Linked DNA regions of Homo sapiens: all the other regions are linked to region 1. Evidence: fine-mapped expression QTL. A gene starts in region 1. Each other region holds a variant in brackets. All regions are shown on one strand. Distances are from middle to middle.

Region 1 (5,229 bases):
TAAACAAATTTACAAGAAAAAAACAACCCCATCAAAAAGTGGCCAAAGGAAATGAACAGACACTTCTCAAAAGAAGACATTTATGCAGCCAACAACATATATTAAAAAAAAAGCTCATCATCACTGGTCATTAGAGAAATGCAAATCAAAACCACAATGAGATACCATCTCACATCAGTTAGAATGGTAATTATTAAAAAGCAAGGAAACAACAGATGCTGGAGAGGCTGTGGAGGAATAGGAACGCTTTTACACTGTTGGTGGGAGTGTAAATTAGTTCAACCATTGTGGAAGACAGTGTGGCGATTCCTCAAGGATCTAGAACCAGAAATAACATTTGACCCGGTGATCCCATTACTGGGTATATACCCAAAGGACTATAAATCATTCTACTATAAAGACACATAAACGTGTATGTTTATTGCAGCACTATTTACAATAGCAAAGACTTGGAACCAACCCAAATGCCCATCACGGATAGACTGAATAAAGAAAATGTGGTACAGATACACCATGGAATACTACGTAGCCATAAAAAAGAATGAGTTCATGTCCTTTGCAGGGACATGCATAAAGTGGGAAGCCATCATTCTCAGCAAACTAACACAAGAACAGAAAACCAAACACCGCATGTTCTCACTCATAAGTGGGAGTTGACAATGAGAACACATGGACACAGGGAGGGGAACATCACACACCTCACACATCGGGACCTGTCGGGGCGGGTGGGGGGCAAGAGGAGGGAGAGCATTAGGACAAATACCTAATGTATGTGGGGCTTAAAATCTAGATGACGGGTTGATAGGTGCAGCAAACCATCATGGCACATGTATACCCATGTAACAAACCAGAACGTTCTGCACATGTATCCCAGAACTTAAAGTAAAATAAAATTAAAAAACAAAAACAAAACAAAACAAAAACTTGGCCGGGTGCAGTGGCTCACGCCTGTAATCCCAGAACTTTGGGAGGCCGAGGCAGCTGGATCACCTGAAGGTCAGAAGTTCGAGACCAGCCTGGCCAACATGGTGAAACCCCCATCTCCACTAAAAACACAAAAAATTAGCTGGGCGTGTAATCCCAGCTACTCGGGAGGCTGAGGCAGGAGAATCGCTTGAATCCGGGAGGCAGAGGTTGCAGTGAGCCGAGATGGCGCCATTGCACTCCAGCCTGGGCAACAAGAGTGAAACTTCGTTTCAAAAACAGCAACAACAACAAGAACAACAACAAGAAGAACAAAAACTCTGCTTTTAAAAGTATTTTAAGTCCAGTGTGAAAAACCTAGAAGTCACAGCAAAGGCCGCTAAGAAACTTACCATTACTCATGACCCCTCTTACTACTGACCTTGAAAATCACTTGCCCTTCTCCAAGGCCCCGCCAGCTTCATGGGTCTCTTCCTGAACCTCCTCCCTAGTTCCAGGGCTTGGCCTAAGTCTCACAGAGCAGAAAGAAACGTGGCCACCCTTCCTCACGTGAGTCCTGTGCAAACATACAGCCCCACACAGAGCTCCTAACAATGGGGCATCAGTACCCAGGCACGATCGATGATTATGAACCCAACGCGATCAGAGACTCCCACATGGTGTGTGTGACTGCGCGCACAGGCGGGAGGAAAGGGGCGAATCTGCAAAACGAGTACAACAGATAAAATTCGCAACAGACTTCTACACCCTTTCAATCAACCGTCCCAAGCGCCACGAACGCGGGTCCCGCTCCGTGGGGGGCCGCAGCCACACTGGCAGGAGGGAATCCTGGGCCTCGACCAGACGCCGGCGGCGTCAGGAGAAACGGCCCGCGCTGGGCAGGCGGCGGGCACCGCGTAGCTCATTACCACGGGGGGCCCCGGCCAAGGCCGCCCGCCTCAGGCCGAGCCTTGGGGCTGTGCTGGACCCGGGCCCTCGTTCGCACGGCGCCCGCGCCGCCGCCGTCGGGAAACCGGGTTTTCAAGCGTTCGGCCCAGCGGGCGCTGTATTTTAGGGCGTGACCCCCGCCCCGCCCTCGAGGGCGACCGGAAGAGCAGGCACCACAGCAGATGCGCCGAGTCTGCGCCCCGCACCGCGAGGAGCACCCGAGGCCGCGCTCCCGGAGCCGGGTCTGGTGACTAAGGCGCGGGTCGCGACGCAGGGGCGGCCCCGGACTCTCGACCCCACCAGCCGCCTGAATGTCCCGCCGGACGCCCGGGCCGGCTCACCTGGGAGGCGCCTCCGCCGTCCGCCCGCGCGGGGCCAGGAGCGCGGCACCACCCCCGTACCGCCGGCCGCTCTTTGTGTCTGGAGGCCGCGACGCAACACTCCTCCCGGCCTCGAGGCACCGCCCCCTCGGTGTCCCGGCGCAGTGGGCGAACAGGGGGCGGGGCGAGCGAACGGGAGAGGGGGCGGGTCGGGTCCGGGATTGCGGGGCGGGGTGGGGGCAAGGCGGCCTCCGCAAATCTCAGGGCGGCTCTGGCCAGTTTGGAGCCTGGGGTGACCCTTGGAGCTGACCTCGCTGGTCCCTGTCGGAGCCCTGCGCGCTGCGGAGCTTGGCGGTTCGCAGCTCTCGGGGTAGCATCTTCTGGAAACAAGCCCGGAGGCCGGCCAGGCAGGGGTAATACCCCAAACCCACCACTGAGGAAACCGCGACTTAAAACCTAGGTCGTCACGTTTCCACCGCATATTAAATCAATACGGGTTGAGCATCCCTAATCCAAACATCTGAAATCCGAAATGCTTCAAAATCTGAAAGTTTTTGAGCGCTGACCTGATGCTCAAAGGAAATGCACATTGGAGCACTTCTTTTTTCTTCTTTTAACTTTCTTTTCTTTTGAGAAAGGCTGTCACTTCTGCTGCCCAGCCTGGGATGCAGTGGCGCGGTCATGGCTCACTACAGCCTCGACTTTCCCGGCTATGGCGATCCTCCCGCCTCAGCGTCCCAACCCCCAGTAGCTGGGACTGCAGGCATCTGCCACCATGTCCGCTAATTTTTGTATTTTTAGCACAGAGTCTCACTGTGTTGCCCAGGCTGGTCTCGAACTCCTAGGCTCAAGGGATGGATCCACCGCCTCGGCCTCCCAAAGTGCTGGGATTACAGGCGTGAGCCACCGCGCCCGGCCTGTATTTTTTTAAGAGAGGAGGCTTCACCATGTTGCCCAGGCTGGTCTGGAATTTCTGGCCTCAAGTGATCCTCCCACCTTGGCCTCCCATAGTGCTGGGATTACTGGCATGAGCCACCGCACCTGGCCTCATTGGAGCATTTCTAATTTTGGATTTTCAGATTAGGGGTGTTCAATTGGTATAATGCAAATATTCCAAAATCTGAAATCCTAAATGCTTCTGGTGCCAAGCATCTCGGTTAAGGGATATTCAACCTGTATATATTTATCGAACACCTACTAGGGCCAGGCATTGTCCTAGGGGCTGCCAACAGCGGTGCAAAAAATCCCTGGCCCTTATAGAGTTTACACAGAAAACAATTTAAAAACGTAAATACCCGGCCGGGCATAGTGGCTCATGCCTGTCATCCCAGCACTTTGGGGGGCTGAGGCAGGCGGATCACCTGAGGTCGGGAGTTCAAGACCAGCCTGACCAACATGGAGAAACCCCGTCTCTACTAAAAATACAAAATTAGCCGGGCGTGATGGCATATGCCTGTAATCCCAGCTACTCAGGAGGCTGAGACAGGAGAATCGCTTGAATCTGGGAGGCGGAGGTTGTGGTTATCAAGCCACTGCACTCCAGCTTGGGCGACAGAGTGAGACTCCATTTCAAAAAAAGAAAAAAAAAAGTAAATACAGCCAGGCACGGTGACTCATGCCTGTAATCCCAGTAGTTTGGGAGGCCACTGTGGGCAGATTGCCTGAGGACAGGAGTTCGAGACCAGCGTGGCCAACATGGTGAAACCCAGTGTCTACTGAAACACAAAAAAATTAGCCAGTTGTGGTTAACGCGCGCCTGTAGTCCCAGCTACTCGTGAGGCTGAGGCACAAGAATTGCATGAACCCAGGAGTCGGAGGTTGCAGTGAGCTGAGATCTTGCCACTAGACTCCAGCTTGGGCGACAGAGCAAGACTCTGTCTCCAAAAAATAAAAATAAAAACATAAATATACAAAAATGTCAGAGAGTTATATCAGAATTACAAAATGAGCTACAGTACACTGTAGCATGAGAAAGGTGCATATACTTTGTAGGAACTCCACTTTAGAGGATGTGAGGATCAGAGGCAAAATGGGGTGAGAAGGAAGCAGGATGAAAGACAGGCTATGGGGGAACGGAGTTTCCAAGGGCGAGTGAAATTTCCAAGTGCCTGCAAGTGCTAAACCCCATGCAGAGCAAAAGGCAAACACAGGGAGTGGTTCAGAGACGCTCATAGTGTGTTCTAGGCTGGGAGGTTTCTCTGACCTGCTGAATGTGCCCAGATACCTTTTGCTATGCCCATGACCTGTCCCAACCAGTGTGGGGCACAATGGCAGGACACACCGTGCAAAGGTGGTCCCTGTGGGATGCGCAGCCAAGACCCCGATGACTCCAGTTTATAACCCTGGATTCCCAGGGGTGCTCAGAGCCATGGGGGCTGCCATTGTGAAGAATGTCTTCTCTTCAGTGCTCCTGATGCTCTGCACGGGCTCCCACTCACTGGCTGGAGAATGAATTTGGAGTCAGAAGATGTGAATCATGCCACTTACTAGCTGTTTGACTGTGGATCACCCAGTCATGTAACATCTGTGATCTCAGTTTCATTTGCAAAATAGAAATGTAAAAATTACCCATTGCACAGGAGTGTACTGAATTTATTTGTTATTTTATTTCTTGAGACAGGATCTCAGTCTGTTACCCAGGCTGGAGTGTGGTGGTGTGATCACAGCTCACTGCAGCCTTGATCTCCTGGGCTCAAGTGATCCTCCCACCTCAGCCTCCCAAATAGCTGCATTACAGATGCACCCCCACACCTGGCTAACTTACTAATTTTTTGTAGAGATGGGGTCTATGTTGCCCAGGCTGGTCTTGAACTCCTGGGCTAAAATGATCCTCCCACTTTGGCCCCCCAAAGTACTGAGATTGCAGGCATGAGGCACCGTGCCCAGTTGAGCATACCGAATTTAAATGAGTTAATGTAGTGGTTCTTCATCAGAGAGAAGTGGGAAGACTAGGAGTTCTCCACTTTGACTACTTAAAAATTAAAAACACCAGTGCCTGCATCCTACCTCCAGACATTCCAATTTTATTGTCGTGTAGAGAAAACTCTCCACTCTCACA
Region 2 (5,229 bases), 710 kb after region 1:
GAGGCCTATGGTGAAAATGGAAATATCTTCACATAAAAACTAGACAGAAGCATTCTCAGAAACTTCTTTGTGATGTGCGCATTCAACTCACAGAGTTGAACCTTTCTCTTGATAGAGCAGTTTTGAAACACTCTTTTTGTAGAATCTGTAAGGGGACATTTGAGCGCTTTGAAGACTATGGTGAAAAAAGAAATATCTTCACATAAAAACTACACAGAAGCATTCTCAGAAAATTCTTTGTGATATTTGCTTTCACCTCACAGAGTTTAACTTTCCTTTTCATAGAGCAGTTTTGAAAAACTCTTTTTGTAGAATTTGCAAGTGGATATTTGGACCGATATGAGGCCTTCGTTGGAAACGGGATATCTTCACAAAAACTAGACAAAAGCATTTCCAGAAATTTCTTTGTGATGTGTGCATTCAACTCACAGAATTGTACCTTTCTTTTTATAGAGCAGATTTGAAACACTCTTTTTGTAGAATCTGCAAGTGGACATTTGTAGCGCTTTTAGGCCTATGGTGAAAAAGGAAATGTCTTCACAAAAAACTAGACAGAAGAATTCTCAGAAACTTCATTGTGATGTGTGCATTCAACTCACAGAGTTGAACCTCTCTTTTCATAGAGCAGTAATGGAACACTCTTGTAGAATCTGCAAGTGGACCTTTGGAGCGCTTTGAGGCCTGTGGTGAAAAAGAAAATATGTTCATATAATACTACACAGAATCATTCTCAGAAACTTCTTTGAGATGTTTGCTTTCAACTCACAGAGTAGAACATTCCTTTTCATAGAGCAGTTTTGAAACACTCTTTTTGTAGAATTTGCAAGTGGATATTTGGAACGCTTTGAGGCCTTCTTTGGAAATCTGATATCTTCACAAAAACTGGACAGAAGCATTCTCAGAAAATTCTTTGCGATATGTGAACTCAACTTACAGAGTTGAACCGTTCTTTTGATAGAGGAGCTTAGAAACACTCTTTTTATGGAATATGCAAGTGGACATTTGGAGCGCTTTGAGGCCCATGGAGAAAAAGGAAATATCTTCACATAAAAACTACAAAGAAGCATTCTCAGAAACTTCTTTGAGATGTTTGCTTTCCACTCACAGAGTTGAACATTCCTTTTCATAGAGCAGTTTTGAAACAACCTTTTAGTAGAATTTGCAAGTGGATATTTGGAACACTTTGAGGCCTTCTTTGGAAACGGGATATCTTCACAAAAACTAGACAAAAGAATTCCCAGAAACTTCTTTGTGATTTGTGCATTCAACTCTTTTTTTTTATAGAGCAGTTTAGAAACACTCTTTTTGTGGCATCTGCAACTGGATTTTGGAGTGCTTTGAGGCCTAAAGTGAAAAAGGAAATATCTTTACCTAAAAGCTAGACAGAAGCATTCTCAGAAACTTCTTTGTGATGTGTGCATTCAACTCTCAGAGTTGAATATTACTTTTCATAGAGCAGTTTTGAAACACTCTTTTTGTAGAATCTGCAAGAGGACATTTGGAGCACTTGGAGGCCTATGGTGAAAAAGGAAATATCTTCACATAAAAACTAGACAGAAGCATTCTCAGAAACTTCTTTATGATGTGTGCACTCAACTCGCAGAGGTGAACCTTTCTTTTGATAGAACAGTTTTGAAACTCTTTTTTTATGGAATCTGCAAGTGGACATTTGAAGAGCTTTGTGGCCTTCGTTGGAAACTGGAATATCTTCACATAAAAACTAGACAGAAGCATTCTCAGAAACATCTTTGTGATGTATGCATTCAACTCACAGAGTTGAACATTCCTTTTCATAGAGCAGTTTTGAAACACTTTTTTTTTTTAGTATGTGCCAGTGGACATTTGGAGCGCTCTGAGGCCTTTGTTGAAAAAAGAAATATCTTCACATAAAAACTAGACAGAAGCATTCTCAGAAACTTCTTTTTGATGTGTGTACCCACCTCACAGAGTTGAACATTTCTTTTGATTGAGAAGTTTTGAAACACTCTTTTTGTAGAATCTACAACTGGACATTTGGAGTGCTTTGAGGCCTATGGTGAAAAAGGAAATATCTTCACATAAAAACTACCCAGAAGCATTCTCAGAAACTTCTTTGTGTTGTTTGCTTTCAACTCACAGAGTTGAACATTCCTTTTCATAGAGCAGTTTTGAAACACTCTTTTTGTAGAATTTGCAAGAGGATATTTGGATCGCTTTTAG[G/A]CCTTCATTGGAAACTAGACAAAAGCATTCTCTTCACAAAAACTAGACAGAAGCATTCTCAGAAACTTCTTTGTGATGTGTGCATTCAACTTTTTCTTTTGATAGAGCACTTTTAAAACTCTCTTTTTGTAGAATTTGCAAGTGGACATTTAGATCTCTCTGAGGTCTACGGTGAAAAAGGAAATATCTTCACATAAAAACTTCACAGAAGCATTTTCAGAAACTTCTTTGGATGTGTGCATTCAACTCACAGAGTTGAACCTTTCTTTTGTTAGAGCAGTTTTGAAACACTCTTTTTGGACAATCCGCAAGTGGACATTTGGAGCGCTTTGAAGCCTGTGGTGAAAAAGCAAATATCTTTACATAAAACTAGACAGAAGCTTGCTCACAAACTTCTTTGTGATGCGTGCATTCCACTCACAGAGTTGAAACTTTCTTTTGATAGAGCAGTTTTGAAAAACTCTTTTTGTAGCATCTGTAATTGTTCATTTGGAGCGCTTTGAGGCCTACTGTGGAAGAAGAAATATCTTCACATAAAAACTTGACAGAATCATTCTCAGAAACTTCTTTGTGATGTGTGCATTCAACTCACGGAGTTAAACTTTCCTTTTGAGAGAGCAGATTTGAAACACTCTTTTTGTAGTATCTGCATGTGTATATTTGAGCGATTTGAGGCTTATGGTGATAAAGGGAATATCCTCACATAAAAACTAAACAGAAACATTCACAGGAACTTTTTGTGATGTGTGCATTCAACTAACAGAGTTGAAGCTTTCTTTTGATAGAGCAGTTTTGAAGCACTCCTTTTGCAGAATCTGCTAGTAGATATTTGGAGATTTTTCAGGCCTTCGTTGGAAACGGGAATATCTTCACATAAAAACTATACAGAAGCATTCTCAGAAAGTACTTTATGATGTGTGAATTCAACTCACAGAATCGAACCTTTCTTTCGATAGAGCAGTTTTGAAACACTCCTTTTGTAGGATCTGCTAGTGGTTATTTGGATTTCTTTTAGGACTTTGTTAGAAACGGGAATTTCTTCACATAAAAACTAGACAGAAACATTCTCAGTAACTGCTTTGTGATGCATGCATTCAACTCACATAGTTGAACCTTTCTTTTGATAGAGCAGCTTTGAAACACTGTTTTTGTAGAATCTGCAAGTGGACATTTGTAGCGCTTTGAGGCCTATGGTGAAAAAGCAAATATCTTCACATGAAAACTGGACAGAAGCATTCTCAGAAACTTCTTTGTGATGTGTGCATTGAACTCACGGAGTTGAACATTTCTTTTGATAGAGCAGTTTTGAAACAATCTTTTTGAAGTATCTGCAACTGGACATTTGGAGGGCTTTGAGGCCTATGGTGAAAAACGAAATATCTTCACATAAAAACTACACAGAAGCATTCTCAGAAACATCTTTGTGTTGATTGCTTTCAACTAATAGAGTTGAACATTCCTATTCTTAGAGCACTTTTGAAACACTCTTTTTGTAGGGTTTGCAAGTGGATATTTGGACCACTTTGAGGCCTTTGATGGAAACGGGATATTTCACAAAAACTAGACAGAAGCATTCTCAGAAACTTCTTTGTGATGTGTGCATTCAACTCACACGGCTGAACATTTCTTTTGATATAGCAGTTTTGAAACACTCTTTTTGTAGCATCTGCAAGTGGACATTTGTAGCGCTTTGAGGCGTATGGGGAAAAAAGAAATATCTTCACATAAAAACAATACAGGAGCATTCTCAGAAAATTCTTTGTGATGTGGGCATTCAACTCACAGAGTTGAACCTTTCTTTTGAAAGAGCAGTTTTCATACACTCTTTATGTAGAATCTGCGTGTGGACATTTTGAGCGCTTTGAGGCCTGTGGTGAAGAAGGATGTATCTTCACATAAAAACTACAAAGAAGCCTTCTCAGAAAATACTTTGTGATGTTTGCTTTCAACTCACAGAGTTGAACATTCCTTTTAATAGAGCAGTTGTGAAACACTCTTTTTGTGATATTTCCAAGTGGATATTTGGAACACTTTGAGGCCTTCGTTGCAAAAGCGATATCTTCACAAAAACTATACAGAAGCATTCTCAGAAACTTCTTTGTGATGTATGCACTCAACTAACCCAGTTGAACCTTTCTTTTGATAGAGCAGTTTTGAAACACTCTTTTTGTAGAATCTGCTTATGGATATTTGGAGATTTTTGTAGCCTAAACGGGAATATCTTCACATAAAAACTAGACAGAAGCATTCTCAGAAAGTTCTTTGTGATGAGTGCTTTCAACTCAGAGAGTTGAACCATTCTTTAGATAGAGCAGTTTTGAAACACTCCACTTGTAGAATCTGCAAGTGGATATTTGGATCTCTCTGAGGCCTTCGTTGGAAACAGGAATATCTTCACTTAGAAACTAGACAGAAGCATTCTCAGAAACTGCCTAGTGATGTGTGCATGCAACACACAGAGTTGGACTTTAGTTAGAGTAGTTTTGAAACACTCTTTTTGTAGAATCTGCAAGTGGACATTTGTTGCGCTTTGAGGTCTATGGTGAGAAAGCAAATATCTTCACATAAAAACTAGACCGAAGCATTCTGAGAAACTTCTTTGTGATGTGTGCATTCAACTCACAGAGTTGATCATTTCTTTTAATAGAGCAGTTTTGAAACAATATTTTTGAAGTATCTGCAAATGGACATTTGAAGAGCTTTGAGGCCTATGGTGAAAAACTATATATCTTCACATAAAAACTGCACAGAAGCATTCTAAGAAACTTATTTCTGTTGTTTGCTTTAAACTCACAGAGTTGAACATTCCTTTTCTTAGAGCACTTTTGAAACACTCTTTTTGTAGAATTTGCAAGTGGATATTTTGGAACATTTTGAGGCCTTCGTTGCAAACGGGATATCTTCCCAAAAACTAGACAGAAGCATTCTCAGAAACTACTTTGTCATGTGTGCACTCAACTCACCCAGTTGAACCTTTCTTCTGATAGAGCAGTTTTGAAATACACTTTTTGTAGAATCTGCAAATGGACA
Region 3 (5,229 bases), 79 kb after region 1:
TGCTATGTTGCCCAGGCTGGTCTTGAATTCCTAGGCTCAAGCAATCCTCCTGCCTCAGCTGGGATTACAGGCATGAGCTATTGCATCCAGCCTGCAATTTTTAAAACATCAAAATAAATGTAAAGGCTATGTCTTAGATATATTTTTTTAACCAATTAAAAATAGTAAAATTTTCTCTTATAGCACGGTGGTCATGCCTGTAATCCTAACACTTTGGGAGGCTGAGGTGGGAGGATCACTTGAGCCCAGGAGTTTGAGACCAGCCTGGGCAACATAGGGAGACCCTAGTCTCTACAAAAAATGCAAAAATTAGCCAGGCATGGTGGCATGTGCCTGTAGTCCCAGCTACTTGGGAGGCTGAGGAGGGAGGATCACCTGAGTTTAGGAGGTCAAGGCTGCATGAGCCATGACTGCAGCACTGCACTCCAGCCTGGGTGACAGAGCAAGACCCTGTCTCAAAAAAATAAAAAAGTTTAAAAAGTGTAAGCCAAATTGTGAGTGAATGAGAGAGAGAGAAGTAGGGTGGGGTGGGAGGTGTGTGTGAGTGTCTAGATAAATATTTGATCAGTTTGCAGAAGCAAATGAATTTCATCATCAGGGCAAATTTATTGGAGAAAGTTTTGCCATGGTGAAGGTATTTCCTTGGGATAGGAATGAAGCAGGGAAATACTAATTTGTGCCTCTGGATATTTAAATTATTCAATGACAATCTGTTTAGATGTCTTTGCATAGATAATGCAAATTAGATTGGGAATTGCCAAAATTTGGTGCCTGAACAATGTAATTTTAAAATTTTTTAGATGAGAACATAATTTCTATTTCCAGCTCTATTCAGACACTGAAGAAGACTTAGGTTGGCCAATTCAAGGTCACCTCTTTTTTTCTTTGAGACGGAGTCTCACTCCGTCGCCCCGCTCTGTCTCCCAGGCTGGAGTGCAGTGGTGCAATCTCGGCTCACTGCAAGCTCCGCCTCCTGGGTTCACGCCATTCTCCTGGCTCAGCCTCCCCAGTAGCTGGGACTACAGGCGCCCGCCAACACGCCTGGCTAATTTTTTGTATTTTTAGTAGAGAGGGGGTTTCACCGTGTTAGCCAGGATGGTCTCAATCTCCTGACCTCGTGATCCGCCCACTTCGGCGTCCCGAAGTGCTGGGATTACAGGCGTGAGCCACCGCGCCTGGCCACTTTTTTTTTTGTATTTGTATTTTGCAACTTTGTTGAATTTATTTATTAGTTCTAACAGTTTTTTGTGTGGAATCTTCTACACGTAAGATAATAATTACAAACAGATGATTTTTCTTCCTTTCAAAATTGGATACCTTTTCTTTTTCTTGCCTAATTGCTCTGGCTAGAAATTCCAGTGCTATGTTGAATAGAAGTGATAAAAGTGGACATCCCTGCCTTGTTCCTGCTGTTAGAGGAAAAACTTTTGTCTTTCACCATTAAGAATGATGTTAGCTGTGGGTTTTTATATATGGCCTTTATTATGTTTCCTTTACAGAAACTGCCTTCCCATGACATTTTATTCCTTTTATTCCTAGTTTGTTGAATTTTGTTTTAATCATAAAGAGGTGTTGAATTTTGTCAAATAATTTTCTTGCATCAATGGAGATGTTCATGTGGTTTTCTCCCTTCAATTTGTTAATGCAGTGTATTACATTGATTGATTTTTATATACTCAATTATCCTTGCATTCCAGGAATAAGTCCCACTTGGTCATGGAGTATAATCCTTTTAAATTAAATTAAATTTAATTAATTAATTAATTAATTAATTACTTTGAGACAGGGTCTCGCTTTGTCATCCAGGCTGGAGTGCAGTGGCACCATCTTGGCTCACTGCAACCTCCGCCTTCCAGGTTCAAGTGATTCTCATACCTCAGCCTCCCAAGTAGCTAGAACTATAGGCGCACGCCACCATGCCCAGCTAATTTTTGTATTTTTAGTAGAGATAGGGTTTCGCCATGTTGGCCAGGCTAGTCTCGAACTCCTGAGGTCAAGTGATCTGCCCGCATTGGCCTCCCAAAGTCCTGGGATTACAGGCATGAGCCACTGTGCCCGGTGTAATCCTTTTTAAAAAAGAACATTTTATTGAGGTATAATTTACATACTTTGAAATTTAACCATGGAAAGTATTCAGTTTGATGAGTTTTAGTTTATACAGTTGTGTGATAATCACCATAATTTAGTTTAGAGCACTTCCTTCACTCCCAAAAGTTCACTTTGTAGTCATCTAACCTTCCCACCCCTAGGCAACAACTAATATACTTTCTATTTTTAAGATTTGCCTTTCTGGAAATTTAATAAGTAAACTCATACAATTTGAGGTATTTTATGTCTGGTTTCTTTGCTTAGCATAATAGTTTCCTTTAAAAGTTTTATTGATACATAATAACGACACATATTTATGAAGTACATGTGATATTTGAATGTATACATACGATATGAAATGATTAAATCAGAGTACTTAGTCTATCCATCACCTCAAACGTTTACTGTTTTTGTGTTGGGAACATTTCAAATCTTCTCTTTTAGCTATTATGACATATACAATATATTGGTGTTAACTATAGCCATCCTACTGTGCTATCAAACACTAGAACATATTCCTTCCATCTAACTCTATGTTCCTACCCATTAACCAATGCCTTTTCATTCCCCTAGGCCTGTCCTGTTCCCAATCTGTGGTAACCATTGTTTTACTTTCTACCTCTATGAGATCAACTTTCTTGTCTCCCACATATGAATATGTGATGTTTGTGTTTCTGTGCTTGGCTTATTTCACTTAACGTAATGACCTCCAGTTCCATCCATTTTGGTGTAGAATAACAGGATTTAATTATGTTTTTATGGCTGAATAATATTCCACTGTGTATATATAGGACATTTTATTTATCATTCATCCACTGATGGATACTTAGGTTGATTCCATGTTTTGGCTATTGTGAACAGTGCTACTACAATAAACATCAGGGTGCATGTATTCCTTTGGTATACTGATTTCCTTTTTTTTTTTTTTTTTTGAGGAGTCTCGTTCTGTCACTCAGGCTGGAGTGCAGTGGCG[T/C]GGTCTTGGCTCACTGCAACCTCTGCCTCCCAGGTTCAAATGATTTTCCTGCCTCAGTCTCCCAAGTAGCTGGGATTACAGGTGTGCACCACCACATCTGGCTAATTTTTATATTTTTAGTAGAGACAGGGTTTCACCATGTTGGCCAGGCTGGTCTCGAACTCTTGACCTCAAGTGTTCCACCAGCCTCAGCCTCCCAAAGTGCTGGGATTATAGGCATGAGCCACCACACCCTGCCTGATTTCCTTTCCTTTGGATAAATACCAAGTTTTAAGATTGCTTCATTGTATGGCAGTTCAATTTGTAGTTTTAAAAAGAACCTCCATATCATTTTCCATAATGGCTGTACTAATTTACATTCCCAGCAGCAGTGTATAAGAATTGCCTTTTCTCCACATCTTGCCATTATTTTTTTTTGTCTTTTTTGATAATACCCATCCTAACTGGGGTAAGGGGATCTCTCATTGTAACTTGCATTTCCCTGATGATTAGTGAGGTTGAGCATTTTTCCATATACTTGTTGCCTATTTGTATGTCTGTCTTCTTTTGAGACATGCCTATTCAGATCCCTTGCCACTTTTTAATTAGATTATTTGGGTTTTGTGTCGAGTTGTTTGAGTTCCTTGTATATTCTGTATATTAGTCCCTTACAAGATGAATAGTTTGCAAATATTTTCTTCTATTCTATATGTTGTCTCTTCACTCTGTTGTTTTACTTGCTATGCAGAAGCTTTCTAGTTTCATATAATCCCATTTGTCAATTTTTGGTTTTGTTGGCTGTGATTTTGAGGTCTCCGTCACAAAATCTTAGCCTAGACCAATTCCTGAAGCATTTTCCCTATGTTTGCTTCTAGCAGTTTTATGATTTCAGGTCCTACACTAAGTCTTTAATCTGTTTTTAGCAGATTTTTTTGCATATGGTAAAAGATAGGGGTATAGTTTTATTCTTCTGCATATGGCTGTCCAGTTTTCCTAGTACCATTTATTAGACAGTGTCCTTTACCCAATGTATATTCCTGGTGACTGTTAAAAATCAGTTGGCTGTAAATACATGAATGTTTTTCTGTGCTATTTATTCTCTTCATTGGTTTAGTATATATAGAAAGGATGCCTCCCACTTTGTTCTTTATGCTTACATTGCTTTGGCTATTTTGAGATTTTTTGTGGTTCCTTACAAACTTTAGGAGTATTTTTTCTATTTTTGTGAAGAATGTCATTGGTAGTTTGATAAGGATTGCATTAAATTTGTAGATTGCTCTGGGTAGTATGGTCATCTTAACAACATTAATTCTTTTGCTCCTTAAGCGTGGCATGTCTTTCTGTTTGTGTCCTCATCAATTTTTTTCATCAGTATTTTTTGGTTTTCATTGCCTAGGCCTTTTATCTCTTTGTTAAATTTTTTCCTAGGTATTTAATTTTTTTGTAGCTACTATAGTTGGGATTGCTTTTTTGATTTTTCAACTAGTTCATTATTAGTGTATAGAAATGCTACTGATTTTAGTATGTTGATTTTTGTCTCCTGCAACTTTACTGAATTTGTTTGTTCTAAGTTTTTTGGTGAAGTCTTTAGGATTTTCTATATTTAAGATCATCTTGTCTGTAAAGAGGGATAATTTGCCTTTCTGTTTTCCAATTTGGATGCCTATTTCTTTATCTTGCCTGATTCTAAGACTTCCACTACTATGTTAATAAGAGAGGTGGAAGTAGGCATTTGATTCATGTTTCAGTTCTTGGAGGAAAGGCTTTCAGCTTTCCCCTATTCATTATGATGTTAGCTGTGGGTTTGTAATATGTGGCTTATATTATGTTGAGGTATGTTTTTTCTATGCCTAATTTGTTGACAGTTTTTATCAGGATGGGATGTTAACTTATATAAAATGCTTTTCCTGCATCTATTGAGAGGATCATAGTTTTTGTCTTTCAATCTGTTGATGTGATATATCACATTTATTGATTTGCATATGTTCAACCTCCTTTGCATACCTGAGGTAGATTCCATTGATCATGGTATATTATCTTTTTGATGTGTTGCTAGGTTCAGTTTGCTAGTACTCTTGAAGATTTTTACTGTATGTTCATTAGGGACTTTTTTTGGCTGTTGTTTCCTTAGTATCAGAGTAATGCTGGTCTCAGAGGTCAAGTTTGAAAGAATTCGTGCCTCTTCATGT

What was found. PIP is the estimated chance that this variant, and not a neighbour inherited with it, causes the effect.
Region 2: its variant is the best candidate, but not a certain one, in a credible set for the expression of NINL in whole blood (TOPMed, PIP 0.82).
Region 3: its variant is the best candidate, but not a certain one, in a credible set for the expression of NINL in tibial nerve (GTEx, PIP 0.65).

Annotation. Positions count from the first base shown.
Region 1 is chr20:25,583,263-25,588,491 of GRCh38, forward strand. It overlaps NINL (ninein like), which reads right to left and starts at 2,269. Exons shown (of 24, transcript NM_025176.6): 1 at 2,193-2,269. RefSeq lists a silencer at 2,204-2,333.
Region 2 is chr20:26,291,156-26,296,384 of GRCh38, forward strand. No RefSeq gene overlaps it. Among named protein-coding and RNA genes, the nearest start is that of MIR663AHG, 85 kb to the left of the region's middle. The variant G/A (reference allele first, on the strand shown) is at 2,200.
Region 3 is chr20:25,661,962-25,667,190 of GRCh38, forward strand. All of the region lies in intron 2 of ZNF337-AS1 (ZNF337 antisense RNA 1), which reads left to right. Among named protein-coding and RNA genes, the nearest start is that of ZNF337, 32 kb to the right of the region's middle. The variant T/C (reference allele first, on the strand shown) is at 3,062.